Linked DNA regions of Homo sapiens: all the other regions are linked to region 4. Evidence: fine-mapped expression QTL. A gene starts in region 4. Each other region holds a variant in brackets. All regions are shown on one strand. Distances are between the middles of the regions.

What was found.
Region 1: its variant is fine-mapped to the expression of PTP4A3 in whole blood (TOPMed, PIP above 0.99).
Region 2: its variant is fine-mapped to the expression of PTP4A3 in blood mononuclear cells (TOPMed, PIP above 0.99). The same link has a PIP of 0.9 or more in whole blood.
Region 3: its variant is fine-mapped to the expression of PTP4A3 in whole blood (TOPMed, PIP 0.93).
Region 5: its variant is fine-mapped to the expression of PTP4A3 in T cells (TOPMed, PIP above 0.99). The same link has a PIP of 0.9 or more in blood mononuclear cells and whole blood.
Region 6: its variant is fine-mapped to the expression of PTP4A3 in whole blood (TOPMed, PIP 0.94).

The regions. Positions count from the first base shown.
Region 1 is chr8:141,342,201-141,346,300 of GRCh38, forward strand. LINC01300 (long intergenic non-protein coding RNA 1300) reads left to right here. Exons shown (of 4, transcript NR_024441.1): 2 at 141-276; 3 at 758-1,015; 4 at 2,144-2,421. Among named protein-coding and RNA genes, the nearest start is that of LINC01300, 3.7 kb to the left of the region's middle. RefSeq lists enhancers at 1-473, 3,647-4,100. The variant T/C (reference allele first, on the strand shown) is at 1,612.
Region 2 is chr8:141,357,057-141,361,156 of GRCh38, forward strand. It overlaps GPR20 (G protein-coupled receptor 20), which reads right to left. Exons shown (of 2, transcript NM_005293.3): 2 at 1-891. The coding sequence starts at 867. Among named protein-coding and RNA genes, the nearest start is that of GPR20, 8.2 kb to the right of the region's middle. RefSeq lists enhancers at 1-48, 49-670, 2,521-3,117. The variant C/T (reference allele first, on the strand shown) is at 2,106.
Region 3 is chr8:141,285,327-141,289,426 of GRCh38, forward strand. The region is part of intron 1 of SLC45A4 (solute carrier family 45 member 4); the gene reads right to left. Among named protein-coding and RNA genes, the nearest start is that of SLC45A4, 21 kb to the right of the region's middle. The variant C/T (reference allele first, on the strand shown) is at 2,004.
Region 4 is chr8:141,390,448-141,394,447 of GRCh38, forward strand. PTP4A3 (protein tyrosine phosphatase 4A3) reads left to right here and starts at 1,574. Exons shown (of 6, transcript NM_032611.3): 1 at 1,574-1,637. It overlaps ASTILCS (antisense transcript of PTP4A3, liver carcinoma survival associated), which reads right to left and starts at 2,174. Exons shown (of 2, transcript NR_187488.1): 1 at 1,961-2,174; 2 at 1-704. RefSeq lists an enhancer at 646-1,266.
Region 5 is chr8:141,412,952-141,417,035 of GRCh38, forward strand. All of the region lies in intron 1 of PTP4A3 (protein tyrosine phosphatase 4A3), which reads left to right. Among named protein-coding and RNA genes, the nearest start is that of ASTILCS, 22 kb to the left of the region's middle. RefSeq lists enhancers at 1-3,301, 1,783-2,742. The variant A/C (reference allele first, on the strand shown) is at 1,954.
Region 6 is chr8:141,442,908-141,447,007 of GRCh38, forward strand. It overlaps LOC105375789 (a long non-coding RNA gene), which reads left to right. Exons shown (of 3, transcript XR_928722.3): 1 at 1-4,100. It also overlaps MROH5. Among named protein-coding and RNA genes, the nearest start is that of ASTILCS, 52 kb to the left of the region's middle. The variant C/A (reference allele first, on the strand shown) is at 2,274.

The DNA.
Region 1 (4,100 bases), 48 kb before region 4:
AAACAGATTCTCCTTGGGAGCCTCCAAGGAAGCCAGCCCTGGCTAGCACGTCTGTGCTCTGTCTCTGGCTTTGCCTGTTCTGGACATCTCTGGAGGTGTGAGCACCATGTGGCCTTTCGTGTCTGGCTTCTTTCACTTAGCACGGTGGCTTCAGGTCCCTCCGCATTATCGCATGTGCCAGTGCTTTGCTCCTTTTTACACCTGAGTAATCGTCCACTGTGGAGTCATCCTTTCAGCTGCTGAGAGATGCGTGGGCAGTTTCCACCTGCAGCCATCGTGAGTAGTCGGGTGAGGCTGCTGAAGCAGACGAGTGAGGGCACTGCCCGGGCCATTTGGGCTGGAGCGGGGGTTTGAACTCCTCTTTGTGGGACGGAGGCTGTGTTCTTGCCCACACCTCTCCCTGCTCCAGGCCTGTCTTCCCCTTGGGACTGGGACTATGACTTGGTGGCTTCAGCCTCCGCAGGGTGAGCCTGATCCTGAGAGTCAGGCTGGGCTGAGGAGGACGGGTGGGCCTCCTGGGGGAGGTGACGACTTCGGACTGGACCTTGCAGGAGGGATGGGCTGTCTGAGGATGGGAGATGGGAGGAGGTATTGCAGGTTGGGCAGCAGGTGAGGCTGAGCTGGGAAGGGAGGTGGTTGAGGCTGGTTCTTGGGCTGAGTGCTGGGGAGGGGTCGGCCGGGGATCACCGAGAGGTCCCTCCAGGCTGCATGAGCAGAGGAGACACCCTACGGGTGATCTTCTTGCCTTTGTTTCTAGAATTCACAAATCCTACAATTCTAAGCTCTCAGAACCCTTGGATCTGAAGGTTCTCAAATGCTAAGGTTTCTAGATGTTAGCAGACGAAGGTGTCAAGACGCATGGGATCTACGATGCAGAGTTCTGAGTGGGGATATGCGTCCCCCACCCCGACTCACCCCACGACACATATCAGTAACAGCCTCTGCAACTCCGCCTTGGTGCCCCCGCACGTTCCAGGGGCAGCCACACTGATGGATTGCTCAGAACGGGCTGGAGGTGAGATGTGTTTGCCCGGAGCCCCCACACACTGTCGTCTCCAGCTGTGCCTGTCCCTCCCCACCTTCCACTCTGTGTCTCTTCCCTGCCCCCCTTGTGCCCCAGCCCCAGCCCCCCCTGTTCTTTCCTGCCACCCAATCCTGTGCCCCACGACAAGGAGGCTGAGCCCAGGGATGGCCAGGAAGGAACCCCCGGCAGGCTCTCAGGGTGGGAGAGAGGTTGTGGGGATCAGGGGCTTTGCAGAAGGGACAGGGAGGCAGCCCAGAGCACCCCAGCTTCTTGGCCAGCAGCAGGTAACCTGGCTGGAGGGCGGGGCCCCCATGGGCCATCCCTGGGCCAGCTGCCCAGGGCTACCAGGAAGGCAGCTTGTTTTGTAGGAGGTCAGGCAGCGCCCTAACCCCACCTCTTGTCTTCCCTGATGTCACACCCCAGGGTCAGCCCCTTGGGCCAGAATGGGGGTGATGGTGGGAACCGGGAAGCTGAGAGAACAGGGAGGAGGCCGGGTGGGGCACACCAGGCTGTGGCTGTGGGGATGGGGAGATTCCTCGCCTGGGCAGGCCGGGCAGCAGCGGGGCAGTCCTGGGGGGTGTGGTAAA[T/C]GCTTCTGCTCTCTTCCCCTGACTACATGGGAGCCTCCGTCCCACCTCACCTGGAAAAGGGGCTTGGAACTGGGCTGCTCGGCCTTGGGCACACCAAACGGGGCCCTTGGAGCCCTGGGCTTCCTGGGGTGGCTGGGTCCCCACCCTGCCTCTGATCCATCCTGAGTCTGCATTTCTTCTCCAGGTGCCCCCTGCCCTTGGCCTCCCACCACGGCCTGGGAGTAGATAGTGGGCTGGGGCAGGCCCAGCGCTGTCCTCTGTGGGAAAGGAGGACTCTGGGCCTGGAAATAGTTGAGTGTGGACAGAAATAACCCTGACTGGCCTCAAAACAGAACATGGAAAATTAAATAGGGAACATTAGCATTCACCCCGCGCTTGCCACAGCCACTGTCCCATTTGGGAGGCGGGCGCGCTTATCCTCATTTAGAGACAGGGAAACTGCGGCCCAGAGAGGGGAGGTGACCTTCCTGAGGTTCCTCTGCCAGCCGGCCAGGCCCTGTGACCCCTGTGCCTCTGTGCTTCCACTACACAGCCGCATCTCCACTTCTGCCCCGACAGTTCCTGCTGCAGCAGATGCCCTTCCAGATGCAAACTCCTACGCATCCTTCAAAACCCAGCTAAATGTCACTTCCTCCGGAAAGCCTTCCCCACCTCTCTAGCAGGCAGTTGAGCCCAGCTTACATTTCCGACAGGCCCTCACTGCCCGGGATTGCAGCTGCGGGCTCCTTGAGGGCAGGGATTGTCCCTCATTCATCCTGATTCCATGCCAAGGCTTATAGTAGGTGCTCAATAAATGCTTGCTGAATGATAGATGGGCTGTGTGTGGTGCTAAGTTGAATGCCTTGTCCCTTTCCCACAATTTCATCTCAACCACCCAAGAATTTAGCGTGAGTATGGCTGTTTTACTAAGGAGCAAACAGGCTTACAGAGGTGAACTCACCTGCTCCAAGGTCACACAACAGTCAAGGGCTGGACCTGGGATTTGGTCCCAGCCCCGCAAACACAGCCCCACTACGTACCTAGCATGGGCTCAGGTAGGCCCTAGGGGTGGGCAGTGTATCTGACCACTCGTCCTGTCCACCTTCCCCTGCACCTGTGGCCCCACGGACCCCTGGGCTGGCTCTCAGGTGTGGCATCTCCACCTTCCCCCACAGGCCCAGAACCCACCCTGCTGGGCCAGCATCGTCTCCCAAGGGCTCCCACACAGACACAGTGGGAGCCCCTTCCCTCAGGCTGGCCCCCAACTTGTCCCCTTAGAGGGGTCGTTGGTAAGCACTGTGGCCTGAGGCTTCCTCTGTGAGAGACTTGTGGGGGTCATGCCACAGGGGAAGAGGGAAGTGAATGGATAGAAGGTTCTAGAACTATTAGCTATTGCAGGGACAAGATATGAAGAAAGGATTTCAAATCCTGGTTTAAAGAATCAGCCAGGCACAGTGGCTCATGCCTATAATTATAGCACTTTAGGAGGCTGAGGCAGGAGGATCCCTTGAACCCAGGAATTGGAGACCAGCCTGGGCAACATGTTGAGACCCCATTTCTACTAAAAGTAAAAAAAAAAAAAAAAAAAAAAAAAAAGATCTGACTATGGTTCCATGTGCCTGTAGTCCCAGCTACTGTGGGCATTGGGGTGAGGGTGGCTGTCGCTTGAGCCCAGGAGGTCAAGGCTGCAGTGAGCTGTGATTGCACCACTGCACTCCAGCCTGGGCGACAGAGCAAGACCCTGCCTCAAAACTAAAAACAAACAAAAAGAATCAAGGTTCTGGGGTTCTGGAGTTGTTTCCATCTTTCCGGCCTCCCGCAGTCCAGCAAAGGCCTATGGGTGAGGCAGAGCAAGTGCTGGAGAAGGTGGCAGCAGGTGGCCTGCGGGCCAGTGGACAGGAAGGAAGTGAGACAGCTGGCAGGCGACTCGGAGCCCGGGAGCGGGAGTGGGCTGGAAAGACCCCTGGCCTGGCCCTGCCTTGGCTCCCCAGAGGGTGTCAGGGCCCAGTGGCCACACTGCCCGCTCCCTGGGGCCCCCTGACAGGAGTTCCCACCGACCTCTCCAGGAATCTGGGGCCCGGGCCTTGTGCCCACCTGCCAGGCCAGTCCACCCTCAGCTGAACCACAGTGGGGCAGATGGATACACAGGCAGGGGCGTGGCCCAGCTGTCGGGCCAGGGTCTACTGGACACTGTCACTGTCTCCCTCTGTCCCTACAGGTGGGGCCTGTCCCCTCTGCCTGACCCAAGGGGCCAGAGACCGCCGAGTGACACACACCCAAGCACTCTCTCCCTTGCCACCGGCTTTGGGGCAGGTGCCAGTGATCTGGTTGGCAATGCTCAGGACTGCCTGTCAGGACATCTGAGCCCTCAGGCTGGTTTCTCACTCCTGCCCACACAGCGGTCTCGGCTGCCAGGCTGTGTGACTCGGGGTGGGGGGCTCTGACCTCTCTGGGCTCACAGGTGATGAATGAGGTTTTTAACCTGAGGACCATGGATGGCCGTGGGGGCT
Region 2 (4,100 bases), 33 kb before region 4:
GTTGAGGCTGCTGAGGGTCACGGCCACGTGGTAGACCACGAGGCTCGTGTGGTGTGGCATGTCGGGCCACAGCGCCACGGCCACTTGGCGGGCGTGGAAGGGCGTGAAGCAGACGAGAAAGATGATGAGCACCGTGAGCAGGAGCTGCATGGCCCGCACGCGGCGCTGGCGACCCTGGTGGAGCAGACCCGGCCGCGACAGTGCACACATGATGCGGCCGGTAAACACGCTGATGACCAGCAGGGGCAGCAGGAACTCCAGGACAGTCAGCGCAAAGACACGGCAGCAGGGCCGGCTGCCTGTCACGCCCAGCACCGACAGGGTGACGGCACCGGCGGCCAGCCACACGAAGGCGCACACGGCCCTGGCACAGGCAGGCTGGCGGCAGCGGCGGGAGCCTTCGGGCCGCACGATGGCCAGGTAGCGGTCCACGCAGATGCAGGTGAGGAAGAGGATGGAGCAGTGCATGTTGAGGAAGTAACCGAGGACGTGCGGGAAGGCACAGCGCAGGCAGCCCCTGGCGCCGTAGTACACAGCGAAGCGCGTGGGCAGGGACAGCCCTACCAGTAGATCGGTCACCACCAGGTTGATGGTGTAGATGACTGAGGGTGTCTTGGCCCGGGTGCGGCAGCAGAAGACGTACAGCGCCAGCCCGTTGAGCACCAGCCCTGCCAGGAAGATGGCTCCGTGCACCGCCATCAGCGCCAGCCACAGGCCTGGGAAGGTGCCATGCAGCTCCTCGTCCAGCCGGGCAAACAGGTGGAACAGGGGCACCTCCAGCCCGCTGGCATTGGTCCGCACTGTTGTCACTGCGGTGGCATTGGGGACTGCCCCGGCCGAGGGCCCCGCTGGAGACACAGAGGGCATGACGGCAGCCAGCACACCCCAGGCCTGGAAGCAAGGAGACCAGGTCACCCCAGGCGCCAGCCTGGCCTTAAGCCCTGCCCTGAGGCCCAGAACTCAGCTGGCCCGTCTGCCCCTGCACGCCCAGCATCCCCCTTCTCCATGCCCTCGCCTGGCTGGGGCCTCAAATGCCTGCTCCCTTGGCTCTACCCAGAGGGAGCCTCGGACAGCAGCAGAAAAGGCACAGGCTTTCAGAGTCAGACGCGTGTTCAAATTCCAGGACTGGCACTTGCCAGCGTGGAGACTCGACAAAATACGGAGGTTTCTGCGACCGTCCTGGCACGAGGGGGAGGCGGAAACACGTGCGGTGCAGGGCTGTCCTCGGGATGGAGAGCTGATAAGGGCAAGACCACGGGGCTCCAGTGTGCAGTTCCAGGGCCTGGCTCCAGCCCCAGCTGTGCCACTGACTAGTGTGCTTGCTCGGGTAGGCCACTTAACCTCTCTACCTGCTTCCTAATCCATGTCACTGGGATCGCGTTGCTGCTGGGGTGACTAAGCAAGCGGGTCAGCACGGCAGCGCCAGCAGAGTTGGTGGCTGATGACCCAGTTCTGCTGGGACAGAGCCTTGTTCATGGTGGGGACCTCTGACTGCCCTGCCCACTCCCCTGTCCCCACACCCACCGTCATGGCCCCCATCCTCCGGGACCACCCATCTGTTCTCCCCTCCTCCTAGGCCAGCATCAGGTCAATGCCCTGGATGGGGGTCCTCATGAGGGACCTTTACAAAGGGAATTAGGCTGTCCAGTGGGGCTGCATGGGAGCCAAGGACCAGTCTCACTGGGCACCCCAGGCTCCTACTGGCCCTGAGAGGCGGGCACCCCTATGATCCCCCCAAACTACAGAAAAGGAGACAGAGGCCCCTGTGGGGTGGCTGGTTGGGGCTGAAGCCTGGAGCCAGAGTGTGAGTCAAATAAACACCGAGCTCCCGTCTGGCCTGGGCAGGGGGGCCAGGGTGGGGGGCGGGCGAGGGGCTGTGCCGGAGCCACCCACTCTGTTTATGTTCCTGCCCTGGCGTGTTTAACTCGGCAGTGATTTATCCCTCTATTTATAAATGAAGGGTTAACGGCCCTACCCCCACCCTACAGCTGGGCTGACCCTCCAAATAAGGGCATTTCTGGCTTTTTCAGGAGAAAGGAGAAGTCTTTGGGGCCAGCAGGGTGGGGAGGCTCGTGGGCCGTTTCTTCTGCACAGCGCCCCTCCCC[C/T]ACCTGCTGGAGAAGGGAGGACACTTACCCCTTCCCCTCCTGGTGGCCCCTGCTGTAAACAGGCTGTGCCCCGCCACTCCCTCTGACCAGTGCGTGGCCCCATCCCACCCCTGGGGAACAATGAGCCCTGCCTTCAAACAGCCCCTGGCCTGGCTCAGGGCAGCAAAAGAACTCTTGCTTTCAGAGGGCCAGGTCCCTCCAGTCGGCGGCCACCTTCTTCCTCAGAGTCAGAGAGGTCAGTGCCTGCATGAGGTCACCCAGCATGCCCTCTGCCTCTGGGACCCCAGCCCTGGGTGCGTGCTACCCTGGAGGCTGCTGGGAGGAGTCAAGTGCTGCCCAGGCCTGTGCCCAGCCCCTCCTGCCACCCCCACCACACAAGGGCCCAGGCTCAGCTCCCAGCTCCCCCCGACTGCAAGCAAGCTCTCTATCTCCAGGCCCTGACACGCGGGCATTGATGGGTGCATTTGTTGGATGAATAGGTCTGTCCTCCCTCAGCCCAGGTGTGCCACCAGAGACGGGATTTGGGGGCACAGCAGGCAGCCAGGGGAGGAGAGGAGGCTGGGCACATGGGGGCTGGGAACCTGGCGTCTCAGGGCTGTGGGCTTCAGGAGCCCCAGAAGGTCCCCCCGAAAGAGATGCGTCCCTCCCCTGCTGTGGATGAAACGCTCTCAGAAAAGGTCGAGGCGGCTTTGCAGCTGGACTGAGGGACTGCATGGCCAAAAAAGTATTTTGGGATTCCTTTCTATGTGCCTTTTGCTTTTCCAATTTGTCTGCACGGGGCCTATATTAGTGTCCCAATCAGAGACAAATCATAAACAACACAGAACGTTTCCTGTGGGAGTGAGTCCCAGGGTGATGCTGGCCCCTGGGAATTCTGCTGTCCCAGAAAACTCCCCAGGGCCAGCCCAGCAGGCTCACCAGCAACGCTGCGGTGCTGGGGTCCTGGCTAGGGATGTGGGGGCTCTGCGGTCTCTGGAGCTGGGGGGATGGGCAGAATGTGCTGGACACCCCAGAGGCCAGACCGGAGAGGAGAGGGAGCTAGCAAAGCATGCTCTGATTCCCCGCACTAAGGGTCTGACCCTGATCTCAAACAAAGCTGAACCCTCATCTTGGTCACACACTGAGCCATGATCCCAGTAATGTGATGAACCTCGATCCCTGTCCCACTCTGAGCCCTGACCCTGGTCACACACTGACCCCAATCCTAATAGCACAATGGGCGTTGATTCCTGTGGCGCTCTGAGCCCTGATCCCAGCCACGACCTGGGCCCTCAGCCCGGACCTTCTGTCCCTGTCTCTGCCCTCCTCTCCCAGCTTCGTCTGGCTGTCTCTGTCTCCATATTGTCAACCCCCACCTGCCTCCCACAGCGACGGATGTCCCGATTCGATTATTACGGGGCCTCTCTGGGGCTCCCACTCACCACCCTCTTTGTTCAGAAGGAGGAGGAATGCAAGCGGGGACTCTAGACCCTGCAGGGGCCCATGGAAGTGGCTCCCTGGCGAGTGCCTGGGGAAAGGAGAAGGTTCCGCCCCTCCTGGGACAGCCTGGCTCTGCCTGTGGGAGAGGCACAGACTCTGCTCTCCGGAGGGCCCGGGTGATGAGCAGTCACCAGCACAGAGACCCGGGTTTGAGTCCAGCCCTGCCACTCCCTCAGCTGAGACCTGGGCCTGGTCAGTAGGCTGGCCGTCCTCATCTGCTGAATGGGGTCACTCGTGCCTTCCACAGCTCTGCCTCGCCCTGGTAGCCTGGACTGAGGGGAGAGGCATGGTTTTACCCTCAGAGCCGGCCGGAGAGGGGAGGCAGGGCCCTGTCCCCAAGCCTAGTTTCCCTAAGCCAAACCTGGGTGTGGGGGAGATGGTCCTGTCTCCTCCCTCTTTCCTGGCAGGCACCCTGGGTCTGTCTGAGACAGCAGACTCCATGGCGGGGGCCAACTGGCCAGAGTCTCATGGGCAGGGACTGGCACCGTGTCCTGATCGTGCTGACATGGTGTTGGG
Region 3 (4,100 bases), 110 kb before region 4:
CGCCATGACGGGGCCTCGCCTACGTTGGAAGATAGGTGGTTCCCCCGTGTGCTCCCCAGTTACACGGGTTCGACCTTCACTAAATCTTTACCGAATCCCCACTCCACAGTGACCGGCCTTGCACTTGGCCCGAGGTCACGGTGTGTCATGTTTTTCTGCGGAAGGACCCCACTTCAGACAAGACCAGGGGTATAAACCGCACACGAGCAGTCAGCCTCCAACAAATGCATCTTTACAAGTCCTGTGAGGTCTGCACTCCACCCACTGCACATCCACGGCCACGTCCGTTTAAACATATTTCCCAAAGAGACGCGCACCCCAAGTTAGGGAAGCGCCGCCCTGGGATAACGAGGACCAACAGGACAAGACTGAGAGGCAGGAGCACAACCCACGGCGGAAAGCACGACACCGGGCAGGGGTCTGCAAACGCCCCGTGCCCCCTTCTGACCGGCCGAGGGCACCTGAACACATCCTTGGCTTTCAGTCTTTCCCGAGTGCATCCTAAAGATGTGAGATCGTGAGTTCTAGCCATGGTCCCAGTAGGGCACCCTCAAGACCTCTGGAACCTGTGTGGTGCTTCTCACAACAGAACAGGGCCGGGCACCTCCTTGACACTGTTCCTCAGGAGAACCAGCAGCGTGAAGGGGCCTGCGGTTGCCTGGGGTGGGGGCAGACGTGAGCGGCACCTCGTGGCTCTGTGGCTCTTGTTACTGACCCCACAGGCGTGGGCAGTTGCATTGCAGGGACCAAGGACACACTGGCTCCCCTCCGCTGGGGACTTCCTGGTCGTGAGCTATGCCCAGAGGAGTCAAAAAGGCACAAGGGGAGACAGGCCTGGCTCCAGCCCTTGGGGTGCCCAAGGCACTGGGTGCCCACAGCCCCTCCTCGGGAAGGTGAGGTATGGGCTTGTGACACCCCTTCCTTCCCTCGGGAGCTGAGGAGAATGGGCGGTGGTGGTTTACTGCATGTTCAGAAAAGGCCTCCACCCTCACCACCCTGCGTGAGACATGGGATCTGTGCCCTCAGGAAACTCAGTCCGAGAGGTGGCCTCACATGCGCGGTTGTTACAAGCAGAGCCAGGTAAGCGCAGAAGCCTGCCAATGTATCTTCCTGGTCCCTTTCGGGGCACCCTTTACCCACACGCCCTACTTAAACCACTTGAAACCCTTTCCAGATGAGGGCAGGTGCAAATCGAGGAATTTATACTTCACAAGAAAAGTACTTCCCCCATTGAATATTTAAAAGAGTAACTGCACCCATCTGCATTTGACCCTGCTTCCTACTCACACTTTCTTCAGAGCCTGCCCCCCAGAAATGTGACCCCCTGTTATCAGCCAGGAGCCCCAGGAATGGGTAAGGCCCCAACTTTAACTTCTTTCCCACTTGTTCGCTTATCAGCAGCAGCCCCCCCGCCCCCCCGCTCCCCACCACCGACCCCATACCACGGCCTCCAACCTCTTCCCCATCTTCCCCCAGTTAAGTTCAAGACTTGGGAAAAATAGAAGCAGCTGCTCTTCACAAACTACTTTAAACCTTACAACGAAGCCAACCAAAATAACTCCATAGTTCAATGTCAGCTGCAGTGGGGAGGAGCTGCAGAGTTCTCTTGCTGGCGGCCACGGGGCTCCCTCCTGAACTCATCCAAGTTAGTATTTTTATCACCAAATCCTAAGACTATCAGAAAACATCTGAGGCCGACCAAGCACCGTGTGACCTTGAGGAAGTCGCCTGACCGCTCCAGGTCATGTGCGAGGCCTTAGGGTGTGAACAGAGCACTTCCCGGTTCCTTCCACTTCTACACGCTTTCATTCTACAACTGAAAACCACACACGAAGGTGTGTGTATCATCATGAGAGAGAGGCCTTCAGAGCCCAGCAGCAACCTATAATAAACAGACTATAAACTCAGCACAGCTCATGCTTTCTTCAAAAGACTGATTTTAACAGGCAGAAGACATAACCGCAGCTATGAAAACCTCTCCCGGCGGATACTAACTACAGCAT[C/T]GTGACTCAGCTGCTCTGATGCTCTGATAGGTGAGGTCACCTGGATACTACAGGTGTTTTCACAAGAGGAAATAACCCACACGCAGGGCACGGAGCGCAGACTGTGCCCCTGCCACAGACCGGCCTTCTCCCCAAAGTCCCTCGTTAACCCTTCACGGCAAGTCTGGAGTTTCCCATTTCCATGGCCAGGACGCTGGGCTTCTGGCCTCCTTGGCTGACTGGACAATTACAGACAGTTGAGTACTGTCTTTTCTGTGAACACTAGCATGTATTTAGCTTAAAAGGATCTTCTGTGCGGCATCTTTTCAGTCTAGCGAGAGAATGCTTTAGGCCATAACAGGTGAAAAGTGCCTCCTTTCACCTGCCACCCCGTTCAAGAGCTGCCAAGGTACAGCAGGCTCTCTGCTGGGCAGAAGCAGGCAGCCGGGTGGAACAGCTAGAATCTCCAGCATCTGCAGACGGGCCTCAGTGGGGCGGTGAGGAGACGGCTCTCAGACCTCCCAGGGCACAGTCCACAGGGTAGCACACAGGAGGGCCCGGGCCAGGGGCACCTGGAGGAAGACGGGGCTCAGAGAAGGAGCAGCTCCATCTCGTACCCTCTTGCGCCCAGCCACCGAGGGGGACTAGACGGCTTTGCACCGACCCCCACGTTTCTCCCACCCTCCTTGCCCCTTTCAAGCCTATGTCATGTCAACAGCCTCCTTTTTGGTGGTGGCTCACATCTGTAATCCCTGCACTTTGGGAGGCTGACGTGGGAGGATCGCTTGAGTCCAGGAGTTTTAGGCTGCAATGAACCATGATCCTGCCACTACACTGCACTCCAGCCTGGGCGACAGGCTTGAGTATGTCTTAAATTTTTTAAGACAGGCTGGGAATTCATATTCACGCTGCCCTTCAGAGCCTCGAGGGCTGCCCTTGTGCAGCTCATTCAAAACCTGCAGAAGGCTGGCCGCTCAGTGCAAAACACACAAACACCAGAAACAGAAAGTTCACAGAAAAGGAGATGCAAATGGCACTTAGGGGTGTTCAAGCTCACGTCCAGTAAGAGAAATGCAAATTGCAAGCGCATCGGTACGCCACATTTTCACATACGACAGAGTGACCCACCACGGGACAAGGCTCCAGGCAAAAGCCCTGACCGTGTCTGATGGGGACCACGCCTGGTTGGACCGCTCATGAGAAGCACACTTCTCTTGCCCCACCAAGTTAGATCTTCTGGAGCCCAGCTAGTCTACACACAGGAATTTCTCCTACAGGCCTACTTCACACAGCCAGGGACCTGTGTACTGACTATGGCACTGTCCTGTCCTGCAGGACTGAGGCAGCCAGGGCCCAGCAAGCTGCAGTGAGCGGGGTCACACTGCCTGAGGTCTGTGCTGGACACACAGCAGGGACTGGATGGAACCTATGCTCTTGGGGCACTCACGGAGGGTGCCGGCCCTGGCTACTTCATGCAGAGCCACTGCTGGGTTGGGAAAGATGACAGGAAGACGAGGGCAAGGGGCACAAGTCCCCGTGCAGCCACATTTTCTGTGGGACTCCCCGTCCAAATGCAGATGGCCAGGCAGCTGGCACAGCAGAAGAACTTGGGGAGCAGTCTGGACTGCAGTCAGAGATGAGTCAGTACCATCGAGGCGCTAATCCTTCGGCGTGGGTGGGAAAAGAGGTCCAGGAAAGGAACCCAGCTCCCAAGAGGGAGGCAGAGGCAGAGATGTGGTCCCAGAGGAATAAGCAGGGCCTCAGCCGGCCATGAAACCAGCCAGGTGCGCGATGGAGTCAGGGCCTGGGGAAGAGGATGATCGGAGAAGGCGGTGCCAGGGAACAGTGGGCACAGAGGCCAGGGCGAGAGCAGAAGGGGCAGAGGCGGGGATGGCGGGGGAGTGCACACTGCACTTTCGAGAAGGAGTGAGAAACAGGGCTGCTGCTTGGGAGACTCGGAGCCAACAGGGGTTGTACTTTTGTCCTTTTTAGTGAAAGACATTAAATCCTACACTGATCAAAAACCTAAGTTCCACGCCTTAGTTCCCCTTAACTCACTCACCCCTTCCATCTATGACAGACAGTCATCTGGAGTGAAGTCTAAGAGTCACAAAGATG
Region 4 (4,000 bases):
GCACCAGCTTTACTCCCAACTTGCTGGGCAATCTTCGGGAGTTGCTGACCTTCTCTGTGTCTCATCAGCAAAACAGGGAGAACACTAGCTCTCCCAACATGGGCTGTGTGAGGACCAAATGAGCTGAGGAGCCCAGATTTGAACCCGGGTCTGCAAGGTTATGTCCTCTGAGCCATCCCCACCCCTGCCCTTAAGGACCAGGGGCCTCTGGACACCATCAGCTTGCCCACCTGTCCAGGATTTGCACGCACCTGCTCGGTGCCAGATGCTGGGCACTGGGGACAAACCAGGTGAGGTGTGGACCGTGACCTGTGTTGTCACTGATTGGGGGACTTTCTGGCAGAGTGGAGAGTGCAGTGGGCTGAGAGACAGGATGGCCAGTGGAGACTGAGCTCTCAGAGGCGGCGGCAGCTGATGGGGACCATGCAATGGGAAGGATGGAGGCCCTGGGATAGTCTGCGGTGAACTTCCAGGCAGAAGGAACAGCAGGTGCAAAGGCCTTTAGCTGGGAAGGAAACTCTGGGTTGGAGGAATAGCTTGCAGGCGCTCTGAGAGAGGCTGGCAGCCAGGTGGCAGGGAGGCAGCCCAGTCAGGTGGTCTTGGGACAGTTTAGGGTCTCTGGCCTTCACCAGTGAGGTGGTGTCTGGAGACTTTTGCAGACGAAGGCAGCTCTCACTCCCATCTTCCCGGGGTCCCTCTGGCTGCTGAGGGTGGATGGGTGGAAAAGCATCTTTCAGGGAAGTGGAGGCAGGGCTGGAGCAGTTGAACATCTGACTGGGCCAAGGGTCCAGGGACTGGCATGGAACAGGGCTGGGTGGGTGAGGCCGCCTGGGAGACCCCAGCTTGCCTCTGTTTCCCCCTGTACTGGGGCCTCCTGCGTGAACCAGCACTGGTTTTTCCAGTAACTGGAGCCACAAGCCTCCCTAGGAACGGCTGACCCATAAGAGGACGTCCTCAAGGTCCCCAAGGGCTAGAGGCTGAGATGCCGCCTTCGCCTGGGCGGGCCTCGCAGCCTGGAGGCAGGCGGTGGTGCAGCTCGGGCAGGCCCCGTCCACACGCCTCCCCGCTCTTCTGAGCACCACGCGTCCCGTGGGCTCCCTACCCGTCCTGATAACACGGCGGTCCGGGGGCCTCGAAGCCGGTCTGACCCCAAGTACCCGGGCCAGGCGGCTGCCGTCTTGTCGCCCCAGCCCATCCCCTCAGCCAGCCCGCCTGGCGGCACGGGACCTAGCCCCAGTCGACTTAGGGGGAAACTGAGAACTCCAGAAGTTTCGTGAACTCCCTGGCTTCGTCCGCATCCCGCCCTCTGCCTCTTCGCTCGGGCTTCAAAACTGCCCCTCCGACGCCCGCCTGCCCCAGGCCGACCTGGCCTAGGCGCCCGGCAGGCACAGGAGCCAAGGTCAGTCCCCGAGGCCGCCCGCGCGACCGGAGCCGCCTCCTCCCAGCCCAGGGGCGGCCTCGGGGGCGGCGGGCGCGCGGCCGCGGCGTGGGGAGCGCTCCCATTGGGCCGTGCCCCCACGTGACCCAGCGGGTCCGGCGCGCGCCCTAAGCCGGTGGAGCCGCGGCCGCGCCTGTGCGCGAGGGCGCGCGCGTCCCGAGCCCTCCACCCGTCGTGCCGGCGCCGCCCGGACCGCCAGGTCAGTCTCCTCCGCGCCCGCTCGGGGCGGGGGCGCGCGGCGCTTTGTGGAGGCGCGTGGGGGGCCGTCCGCGCGCGAGCCCGCCGCCCGCTCCGGGCACGGCTTCGGGGCCGCGCAGCCGGGAGGGCCGCCGCCTTCCCCCTGCCCGCGCGTCCCGGGACCCTGCGCCTGGCGGCCGATCCGGCGGGAACGTGGGCCTGGAGGCTGCCACGTGCCGGGGCCGAGCCTCAGGAGGCCGCTGTTTCCCCAGGCGAGCCACAGAACACCCCTGGCTGGAAGGGGGTGACCCGCTCCCGTTTCTGGGTGCGCGGGAGACCTCCTACCCTGAGTTCATCCTGCGCAGGGTCCCGCCCAGGATCTGGCTCTGCCCCCATTCACGGCTCATTTTCCTCAGCTGCACAGTTTGGGGGGCTGGAACCCCACAGCCTTCCGTGCCTCCAGGGCGGGTCGTAGATGTCAGTGGAGGTCAGGGGAAAGCAGAGCGTCAGGTCTCAGGCCGGGTGGAGTCCGCCTCAGACCATACCAGTGTTGGGACTCGGGCGGCGCCTCAGCCCTCCAAGCACACCCCGGTAGAATCAGGTCAGCAGCCTTGATCCACGTGCCTCAGGGATTAAACGGGTGACTCCTGACACGCCCCTGGGCAGCTGGTGGCCCAGGGGTGGGGTGGTGGCATGCTTAGCTCCAAGTGGGCAGAGCAGTTTCACCCTGCCGGTTCCCGGAGGGAAGCCCTTTATGAGGGAGGCTTCCCTGGCCCTCTGTGATAGCGGCTCCAAGGGCAGCGTGAGGTCCAGGCTAGCTGGTCACAGTGTGTGCCCGGGCACCCTCAGCCAAGACAGAAAGGCACGTGCTGCACCCCCTCTCTCTGCCTGCGGGCTCTGGGGTGTGCCCCGCACACGATGGTGGGTGTTGGGCATCCACCTAGTCTGTGGACCCTGGGGGCCCTGCTCCCAGGTTGGAGCAGTGTCCTCGGCTGCAGACCAGAGGAGGTCACTGAACACAGGGTGCCTGTGGCCTTGCACAGACAGAAGCCGCCTGGCAGCCCTGTGCAGAGCCGTGCTTCACTGAGTTCCTGCAATCCTCCCAAGAAGTTCGTTAACCCCATTTCTCAGATGAGGAGACTGAGGCCCACAAAGGTGGAGTTGGTGCAGCCCCTAGCCTGCGGGGCTAAGCAGAGCCTTGTTGTCCCCATCTGCAAAGGGGGCGTTGGAGCTGCTGTAAATGGGCCCCGAACCTGTCACCTGAGTGGAATTAGGCATTGGGGATCTCCCCATCACCACGCCGGCCCCCCTCACTGTGGTTACGAAGGAGGAGAAGCTGCCCTGTGTAGGAATTCCTGGGCTGTTTCCAAATAGCCCCGCTAGGGAGCTGGTCACCCCTCAACACCCCCAACGTGTTCTCCAAGCACTTACTCTGTGCCAGGCCCAATGCTGGACCTGGAGATGGGGCATGGCTGGCTGGCTGAGCGGGGCAGGTTGCGGACAGGCCCCCGCAGGCAGTCGGCGTGATGGGAGAAAATGCAGGCGGGGATGAGATGCAGCCTCCAGGTGGTTTCCTCAGCTGCCTGCTCCTCTCTGCCTTTGCCCTCCTCCCGGAAGCTTGCGCTGACCACTGGAGTAAGGCTGGGGGCCTCAGCTGGTCCCCTCTCTGTCCCAAGTAACAGCCCAGAACATGGTGAGGGTGGCTGGCTGATGCAGTCAGGCACTGGACATGGGAGGCAGGAGGAAGGCCGGGAGGTGGGCAGCTTTCTCAGACAAGTGGGCAGTTTGGATGGCGAGGAGGTCTTGGAGGCACCATGGGTGGCTGGGCTCAAAGATGACATGAGGGCATGCTTAACAGATGCTTAACCAAATCCTGAATTGGCATTGGCCAATTTCTGTGGTGTAACTACTCCCAAGCTACACAGACGTGACTTTACTGGCTGAGGACTTGGGCAGAGGTGCACACAGTCAGACTGAGAGGGGGGCATAAGCTGGTGTGAGCCCTCCCTCTCACCGCCAGGGTGGGCAGAGTGTCCGCTGGTGCCCAATGCCTATGCACGTGACCTCCTTAGGGACTTACATCCAGATGGCGGTGATACAGCTTGGGGAGGCCTCTCCCTGGTTGGCAGGTCCTGGCGAAAGGGTGAGTTAAGTGGAAAGTGTACCAGGCTGGTGTCCAGGTGGCATTTGGCCAGAGGGGCTGAGCTGGGAGCTCCTGGGCCTGGGGCTGGCAGATAGTGGTGATTTTTCGCCCCCCAAGACCTTGGGCTTGCCTTGTTCCATGAAGGTCCCAAATCTGACCAAAGGCTGTAACCAGATGGTCACTGTCCCAGACCACCCCAGGGCGCTTTCTCACCTCGAGAGCACCGTTTCTCCCCACCTCCA
Region 5 (4,084 bases), 23 kb after region 4:
CCCCTGTTGTGGACCACTTTGGGGCCTCTGGCTGATGCTGGTGGGTGAGGACCTTCCTGGGCAGCCTCCTCCGGCCAGCAGGAGGGACCATCAGGCCATGCGGACCCTTGGAGAGCTTGGGGGTCGGTTCCTGCCCTGGAGTCAGCTGTGTCTGCTGAGGGTCCACTGGTGTGTGGCACAGAAGGGGTAGGGGCTGTGCCTGGTGTGCCAGGGAGGCCCTGAACTCTCCGGGAGGCCAGATCAGGGGCCTCCTCTGGGCCTGCTGGGGGCCTCTGCATTCTTGGCAGGGCCTCAGGGACTGGGGCGGGGAGAGGCTCCTTCTCAGAGGCTGTGAGCTCCGAATGAAACTCCATGCCCTCCGGGACACCATGCCCACTTCTGGGTACTGGCCTTCAGGGGCCTTGGATGTGGGTGGCATGGCACTGGCTAAATGGGGCCCAGGAGGAAGGCAGCAGGACCGTGGGCATGCAGGCCTAATGCCAGGGCCAGGGCAGGCTTCATGTGGGCTTCCTCCTGTCTGGAATCCTGGAGCCGCACAATTTCCGACCCAACACCCCGTACTCCAGAGCGACTGGCTCTTAACGGAAGCTGCTGCTGGCAGGTGTGTTATAACAGAGCTCTGGGGTGGGAGGCTGGGGGCAGGGAGGGTTAGGGCCGTCAGAACACGGCTCCCTCCTGCCCAGGGCAAGGTGGGGCCACGTGTGCGCATGTGAGTGGGGCACCTGGTCTGGGTGTGGCCTGGGAACCTGCATGTTACAGACGCCATGGCTTTGGAAACACTCAGGAGTCCAGCTGTGTCTGTTCCAAGATGGGTCAGGGTTGCCGCAGGGAGGGCAGTGACTGGTCCACAGCTGGTGTGGCTGTGCCATCCTCCTTCCAGCCTGGGCAGAGGCCTTCCAGGCAAGATGAAAGATGCGGTATGGACAGGAGGACATGGAGGATTCAGGGCTCTTGGTGTAAAGATGCTGTGTGGACAGGAGGACATGGAGGATTCGGGCTCACGGTGTCCCTGGAGGCTCTGGTGGGCGTCGTGGGGCTGGACTGCTGCGGGGCAATGGGGTCCCCATCTTCCCGGCACAGGCATCTGATCTGGTCATCTGTTTCTGTGGCGTGTGTGTGTGTGTGTGTGTGTGCACGTGAGCACACATCTCTGTGTATGCAGGTCAGTGTGTGTGCTTGCCAGAGCTTCCCATTGGGCGGTTTCCACACTGGCTTCTCAGTCATCCTGGGAGGTAAGGCATGAGCACTGGACTGGGAGTCCTGTCTGAGCCACCGACTTGGCCTGCCATTGTGGAGCTGTCCTGTCCACTCGCTGGACATTAGGCCATTTGTGTACAATAATCCCCTGAGATTTGTATCCTCCCATGGGGAGATCAAAAGGGGCCGAGTGTGGCCCTAGGGTCTGGGGGCCCAGCCTGGTGGGTAGACCTGGCTTCTGGGACTGTAGTGGTGGAAGGTGGCTGGGGCAGGGGAGGTTCACTCACTGGGAGGCTGGAAGAGGTGGCCCGGTAGGGAGAGAGAAGGGCAGCCAGACAGAGGGCACGTGGGAGCAGCAGCCTGGTGGCAGGTGTGTGAGTCTCTGCACCTGGCCGGGGTCTTGAGGAGCAGGAGAGGTTCGGGCAGGTGGCTGAGGAGAATGCGGGCACTGAGCTTGGGAAGAGCCCTGGACTGGGGGGGGGGTAGGGACTGTTGGGCAGCCCCAGACTGGCACAGGTGGATCGGGTGCCTAGGCAGGGGGTGGTGAGTTATGGCGCAGCTGTCTTGGTGGCTGGGGGGAGCAGGGATAAGGGTGGACTTCTTAGTGACCGCTCTCTGCCCCAGGAGGTAGAGTCCTGGGGGCTGGGCTGGCCTGAGAGACGCCCCCTCATCCTTTCCAGGGTGAGGTACGAGGGCTCCGCCCCCTCCTGATATCACCAGGCCTAGGGCAGCATCCTGATGGGGGAGGGGCAAGTG[A/C]CCCGGGCCCTGGACTGCAGGAACAGCCCCTCCTCCACTGGTGGAGTTCCCACTTCCTGCGGAAGGAACTATGTTAGAAGTTGTGTATATGGGGTGGGGGTTGGGTGTGGGTGGCGGGGGGCCTGGGTGGGGTCCACTGAGTCGCCTCCCCTGTCTCCCTGCACTTCCTCCTGGAGGAAATGGGGACAACAGGATGAAGTGAGGGCCTGCTGAGCCCAGGGCTGCCACCTGGGAGTGAAGCCGGGGCAGGCTGCAGGGTCCGGGCCCTTCTGTGTGGGCAGGTGGAAGTGGTGGGGATGCAGTGAGGCTCCCTCCAGCGCGGCAAGGAACGGGCCCTGGGACCCTCTTCCCAGCCTGCAGCAGGCAGTGGGGAGACAGGCCGGAGCCCTGGACAGCCCCCAGTCTTTCCCCACCCCAACTACAGGGCCTGGGTCTCCGTGCGCCATCCCCCTCCCGCCCCCTCCCGCTCGCTCCCGCTGTTACAGGGCCCTAGGGACCGCCCTGTCCCCCGTGGGCCCCAGAGCCCAGGCCAGCGCTGGAGGGACCCTCCTGCCCTCTGGCCGGGACCAGGGTGCCCGCCGCAGCCCTGGGACCCTGCGGCCCCGGTCCCTATTCGAGGCCCCAGCCGGAGCGTTCCGGGATCCTTCGGGGGAGTGCCCAGCCCCGCGCCCCCGCCTCCCACATGACTCCGGGTGGGCCCTTTTGACGTGCGCGGAGGGCGGGGGGCAGGGGGCGGGGCGGGGGGGCAGGGGGCAGGGGTGGTGAAGGGTAGGGGGCGTGGCGGGGAGAGGGGATGGGGTGGGGTGGGGACTGGGGTGGGGTGGGGTGGGGAGAGGGTGTGGGGTGGGGTGGGGAGAGGGTGTGGGGTGGGGTGGGGAGAGGGGATGGGATGGCATGGGGGGATGTGGCAGTGAGGAGGCTGGGCCCTTGGAGCTGCCGAGTGCAGGGGCCTGGAGGACTCCGGGAAGGCGTCCTAGTGCATCAAGCGTGGGCTTGGCCTGCTTGGGTCTCCCCTCCTGGCCCCCCTAGCAATGGGCGGACTTGGGCCCGCTCTGGGAGGATTCCAGGAACGGCTCCTGCCTGGTTATAAATAGACTTCTCCGAAAGGCCTGGGGCTGTGCCAGCTGCAGCAGGTGCCTCCCAGGCCCGGCCAGAGGGCCCCAGGCAAGGGGGTGGAGCCCGGGTGGGGGTGATGAGGATGCTGGGGTCCACTTTTGTAGCGCCAGAGGCGACGGGCTCTGTCTGGTTGTAGCATCACAGAGCTTGATGGGAACTTTCACTCTGAGACCCCTTTTATGGATAAGAAAACTGAGGCTGGGGGGCAGGAGCAGCTTACCCCAGAGGTCCTCTCTCCCAGAGGGCTAGGGTGGGGATAAGCAGGGTCTCGGGGGCAGCAAGACCCAGCTCCAAATGTGGTTTTTCTGCCTTCTGGCTGTGTGACTCAGAAGGGTTGCTCAGCTTCTCTGTGCTGTTATGGTTTGTCAGTGCAGTGTGGCAGGTGTGTGTCTTGCTTGTGGAATGCAGTGTCTAGCCTGGTATCCTTAGAAAGTGGCTGAGGTTGGAGATTGGTGGGGCAGAGTCCCTGAAGCTGACCCATTCTTGCCTTCAACCTTCAGGGAGACGCTGCTGGAAGTGGTGAGCTGAGAGCACTGGGCAGGAGTCAGAGCCTAGCGTCTCCCTGTGGAGCTGGGTGCACCCACGTGGGTGGGTGCCCTTGCCAGGGAGCTCACACCCTTGGGGGTCCATGAGCTGGCAGGCAGGGCTACCTGGCTTGGTGTGCCCTTGGGTGGAGGCTCCCATGGGGCCCTTCAGACTGGGCACAGCCCTCCTGTCCTCTGCTCCCCAGCCTGCTTGCCCACCTGGAGGTGGGAGGAGGCGAGGGTTGCCGGCACAGCTGGGCCAGGCTGATGGTGATGTTTTCTGGAAGTGTGGGTGGGGAGAGCCTGGCAGGGGGAGGGGGGGTCGTGCTCTCAGCTGGGCCCCTTGATGACCTCAGATTGCAGGGACCAGGTTGTTTGAGAGCTGCAAGCAGGGCCACACCTCCAGGGACCCTGTGCTGGGGGTACCACCCTTGCCGCTCCACCCTGCTCTGAGGGCCCTGGGTGGCCAGGGCGGGCACAGAGTGGGTGGT
Region 6 (4,100 bases), 53 kb after region 4:
AAGCTGTGTCATAAAAAAAGGCAGCATTTTCCAGGTCACTGGTCTCAGCCATAATGCGACAATGGTTTTCAGAAGAAGGGGACTTGGTGGGGGGAGTGGCATTTTGTTTGCTCTGGGAGGACTCCAGAAGCTTCTGGTCCTGTGACTTCTTGGGCACTGTATTGGCTTGTTCTTCAAGATTGCCTTGTCCCTGCAGCCCCAGCAGGGCTTCCAGAAAGATGGGCTGATTCAGCATTCTTGGGAATCCATGCCCAACTCCCCTGCAGGTCCATAGAACACAAAACCACCTCCAGCCCAGGACCCCCGGCAATGCTCAAGGACATGTGTCTCCTGAAATCCATACGCAGTCCCAAGACCGATGAAGGTGGAGCCCCTTGAGTCTCTGCCTCGCTGTGGACTCAAGGAACCATCCTCCGTTCCTGCTGGTCTCAACGTCGTTGCCTGCCTGCAGCCTCTTTGGACACTTGGCATCCCAGTGATGCCTGCCCCATACTCGACCAACCGTCCTTTCCCCACTCTGGCCCCGGAGAGGGCAAAGGCACCTGAGAAAGAGGAGGCAAAGCCCCTCTGCTTTCCATACTCCTCCCCAGCCTGAGGGTCCATGAGACCCTCTTCCCTCTCCCATTACCTCCTCCTCTTCTGGTTTTATTTTTAATTGTGGTAAAATGCACATCTCATACAATTTACCGTTTTAAGTGTACAGGTCAGTGGCATTGAGCATATTCATAATATTATGCAACCATCACCACCATCCATCTCCAGAACATTCTCATCTTCCCACACTGAAACTCTGTCCCCATTAAACATTAACTCCCCATTCTCCCTCCATCCAGCCCCTGGCACCCAGCATTCTACTTTCTGTCTCTGTAGATTTGGCTACTCATGGACCTTAAGTAGGTGGACTCACACAGTATTTGACTCAGCAGAATGTGCTCAAGGTTCATCCATGTTGTAGCATCAGAATTTCCTTCCTTTTCAAGGCTGAATAGTATTCCATTGTATGGATGGACCACACTGCTTATTCTAATTCACCCATTGATGAACACTTGTGTTGCTTCTACCTTTTGGTTATCATAACACTGCTGTGAGCAGGGCGTACAAATATCTGTCCCAGGTGCCTGCTTTCCTTTCTTTTGGGTGTACACCCATTAGTGGAATTCCTGGGCCATATGGTAATTCTATATTTAATTTTTGGAGGAACTTCCATACTCTGTTCCAAAGCAGCTGCACCGTTTTACATTCCCACCAACAGTGCACAAGGCTTCTGATTTCTCCACATCCTCGCCAACACTCATTTTCTGATTTTTTTTTGGACAGTAGCCAACCTAATGGGTGTGAAGTTCCTCCTCTTCTTTTGATCACAAGCCTTTGGCCCCAAATCCCCAGGGGACAGAGGGAAAGATGAAGATGAGATGAGGGTGAGAATGATGAGTGCCTTCGAAATAAAGAGAAACGATGTAGCCCATTTGAATTAAATAGAGTTGGCCCACATGGATGACGTGTGAGAACAATGAGAATTCCTTTGTGGGGCAGGGTGGAGACTGGCTGGAGGAGGACCCAGCTGAGAACTGACCAACGCAGGAAACATCTCTAAGGAAAAGGCTTTGTTAGTGGAGGAGCAGGGGAGAGGGAGGCCCCTCTGGCAGGCCTGGCAGCACCTGTTGCAGTCCTGCCCAGGGAAGGGTGCCCTGCTCAACCCCACTCGCTGCTTCCTGGTCCCAGAGGCCTGTCCATCTAAGCAGGACATGAGAACTTCAGAGGCCCAGGGCTGGCCCCATCAGGCCTCAAGACTCCCCTGCTGCCCCATGGTGTCCTGTGCCGCCCCCACCGTTTTGGGCATGCAGAGAGAGTGGCTACTCAGCACTGCTCATCCAGTTGTCCTTCTGGGCCCCTGTCCCCACCTTGACAGTGCCACAGCAGCCTGGCAGGGACCTCAGACCGTGAGCCACCGGGATACACCTGGGTGTCACTCTGCTCTCAGGCCTCCCTTTCTCCCTGGCTCCGTGGTGGTGCTGGGTGGCATGGCTGCTGGTTTGGCAACCGGAGCCTGGGCCCCTTCGCGGTGGTCGAAGAGGCCTGGGCCCATGCCGCTCCCTGGAGGGCGTGGGAGCCAGGCCTGGCCAGTCAGAGCCGCACAGGCCCCTGTGGCCAAGGTGATTGGTTCAGGATTGGGTATGTGAGCAAAGCTAGGCCAATCAGAGCCCAGGACTGTGCCCGTGGTGAGAGTTTTTTCTCTTGGGGCTGCGGGAGCTGCCGGGGCCACCTCCAGGGCT[C/A]CAGGAGAACCTGCCCGGAGCGGCCTGAGCAGAAACCACCCGTGGCCCCGCGCGAGGCAGAAGTCCCTGCTATATGGGGAGCCTGAGAGAGACAGACAGACGTCCCAGCTGTATGGGGAGCCCGAGAGAGAGACACGTCCTTGCCGGTGGGGGAACCCACGAGAGACAGATGTCTCAGCTGTATGAGGAGCCCCCAGTGAGACAGACGTCCCAGCTGTATGAGGAGCCCGAGAGAGACAGACAGACGTCCCAGCTGTATGGGGAGCCCGAGAGAGACAGACAGACGTCCCAGCTGTATGAGGAGCCCGAGAGAGACAGACGTCCCAGCTGTATGAGGAGCCCGAGAGAGACAGACGTCCCAGCTGTATGAGGAGCCCGAGAGAGACAGACAGACGTCCCAGCTGTATGAGGAGCCCGAAAGAGACAGACAGACGTCCCAGCTGTATGAGGAGCCCGAGAGAGACAGACGTCCCAGCTGTATGAGGAGCCCGAGAGAGACAGACGTCCCAGCTGTATGAGGAGCCCGAGAGAGACAGACGTCCCAGCTGTATGAGGAGCCCGAGAGAGACAGACAGACGTCCCAGCTGTATGAGGAGCCCGAAAGAGACAGACAGACGTCCCAGCTGTATGAGGAGCCCGAGAGAGACAGACGTCCCAGCTGTATGGGGAGCCCGAGAGAGATAGACAGACGTCCCAGCTGTATGGGGAGCCCAAGAGAGATAGACAGACGTCCCAGCTGTATGGGGAGCCCAAGAGAGATAGACAGACGTCCCAGCTGTATGAGGAGCCCGAGACAGACAGATGTCCCAGCTGTATGAGGGGCCTGAGAGAGACAGACGTCCTTGCTGGTGGGGGAACCCGCGAGAGACAGATGTCTCAGCCGCATGGGGAGGTCCCAGTGAGACAGACAGACATTCCCGCTGTATGGGGAGCCCCCAGTGAGACAGACAGACATTCCCGCTGTATGGGGAGCCCCCAGTGAGACAGACAGACATTCCCGCTGTATGGGGAGCCCCCAGTGAGACAGACAGACGTCCTTGCTGTATGGGGAGCCCCCAGTGAGACAGACAGACGTCCTTGCTGTATGGGGAGCCCGCGAGAGACAGACAGATGTCTCTGGCTCTTCGGGACCTTCCAGTCTATGGGTGAGGGCAGTAAAGCAGGTAAAAGGCGCAGATCACAGATGGTAGCTGATGGCGGGGCTGCGGCGAGAATAAAGCAGCAGAGGGTGGGAGGCGCCGAAGGGGCTGCTATTTTGGAGGGTGGTGGGGGAGGCCTCAGTGAGGTGCGGGTGAGCAGAGCCTGCAGAGACAGGATGGCTGGGGGAAGAACATTCCAGCAGGGGGAGGAGCAGACGGGGTGAGGCTTTCTCCCAACCCTCCCACGTTCCGGGAGGAGAAGGTTTTATTAGCTTATTAGGAAAGATTCATGCATTTTGCATGGTTGAACTGAATAAAAAAGGAACTTCGTGCACATTTGAATTCGGAGGCAAGATGAGAAGAAGTGGCATTTTTTTTAAGTGACTTGCCTTGGGGAGAGCTGTTAAAACTGACAAATTGCGTGACGCACATCATAATACAAACAAATGAAAAGAGTTGGCCCCAGCGGTTTTTAGACTTGCTTATTGGATTTTTGGAAATATGACCTGGTGCAGAGGGAAGATGAAGGCAGGCAGCCCTACTGAGGCCAGAATACGGTGGGCGGGGGAGCGGGCAACTGGCCGTGATGTCAGCCTGAGCATGTGCTGAGGACCAATGAGATGCCCAAGAGGGCATGGAAAGGCATCTGCCCCATGGGTGAGCCCAGTTCGCCTCTGCATGGACATGC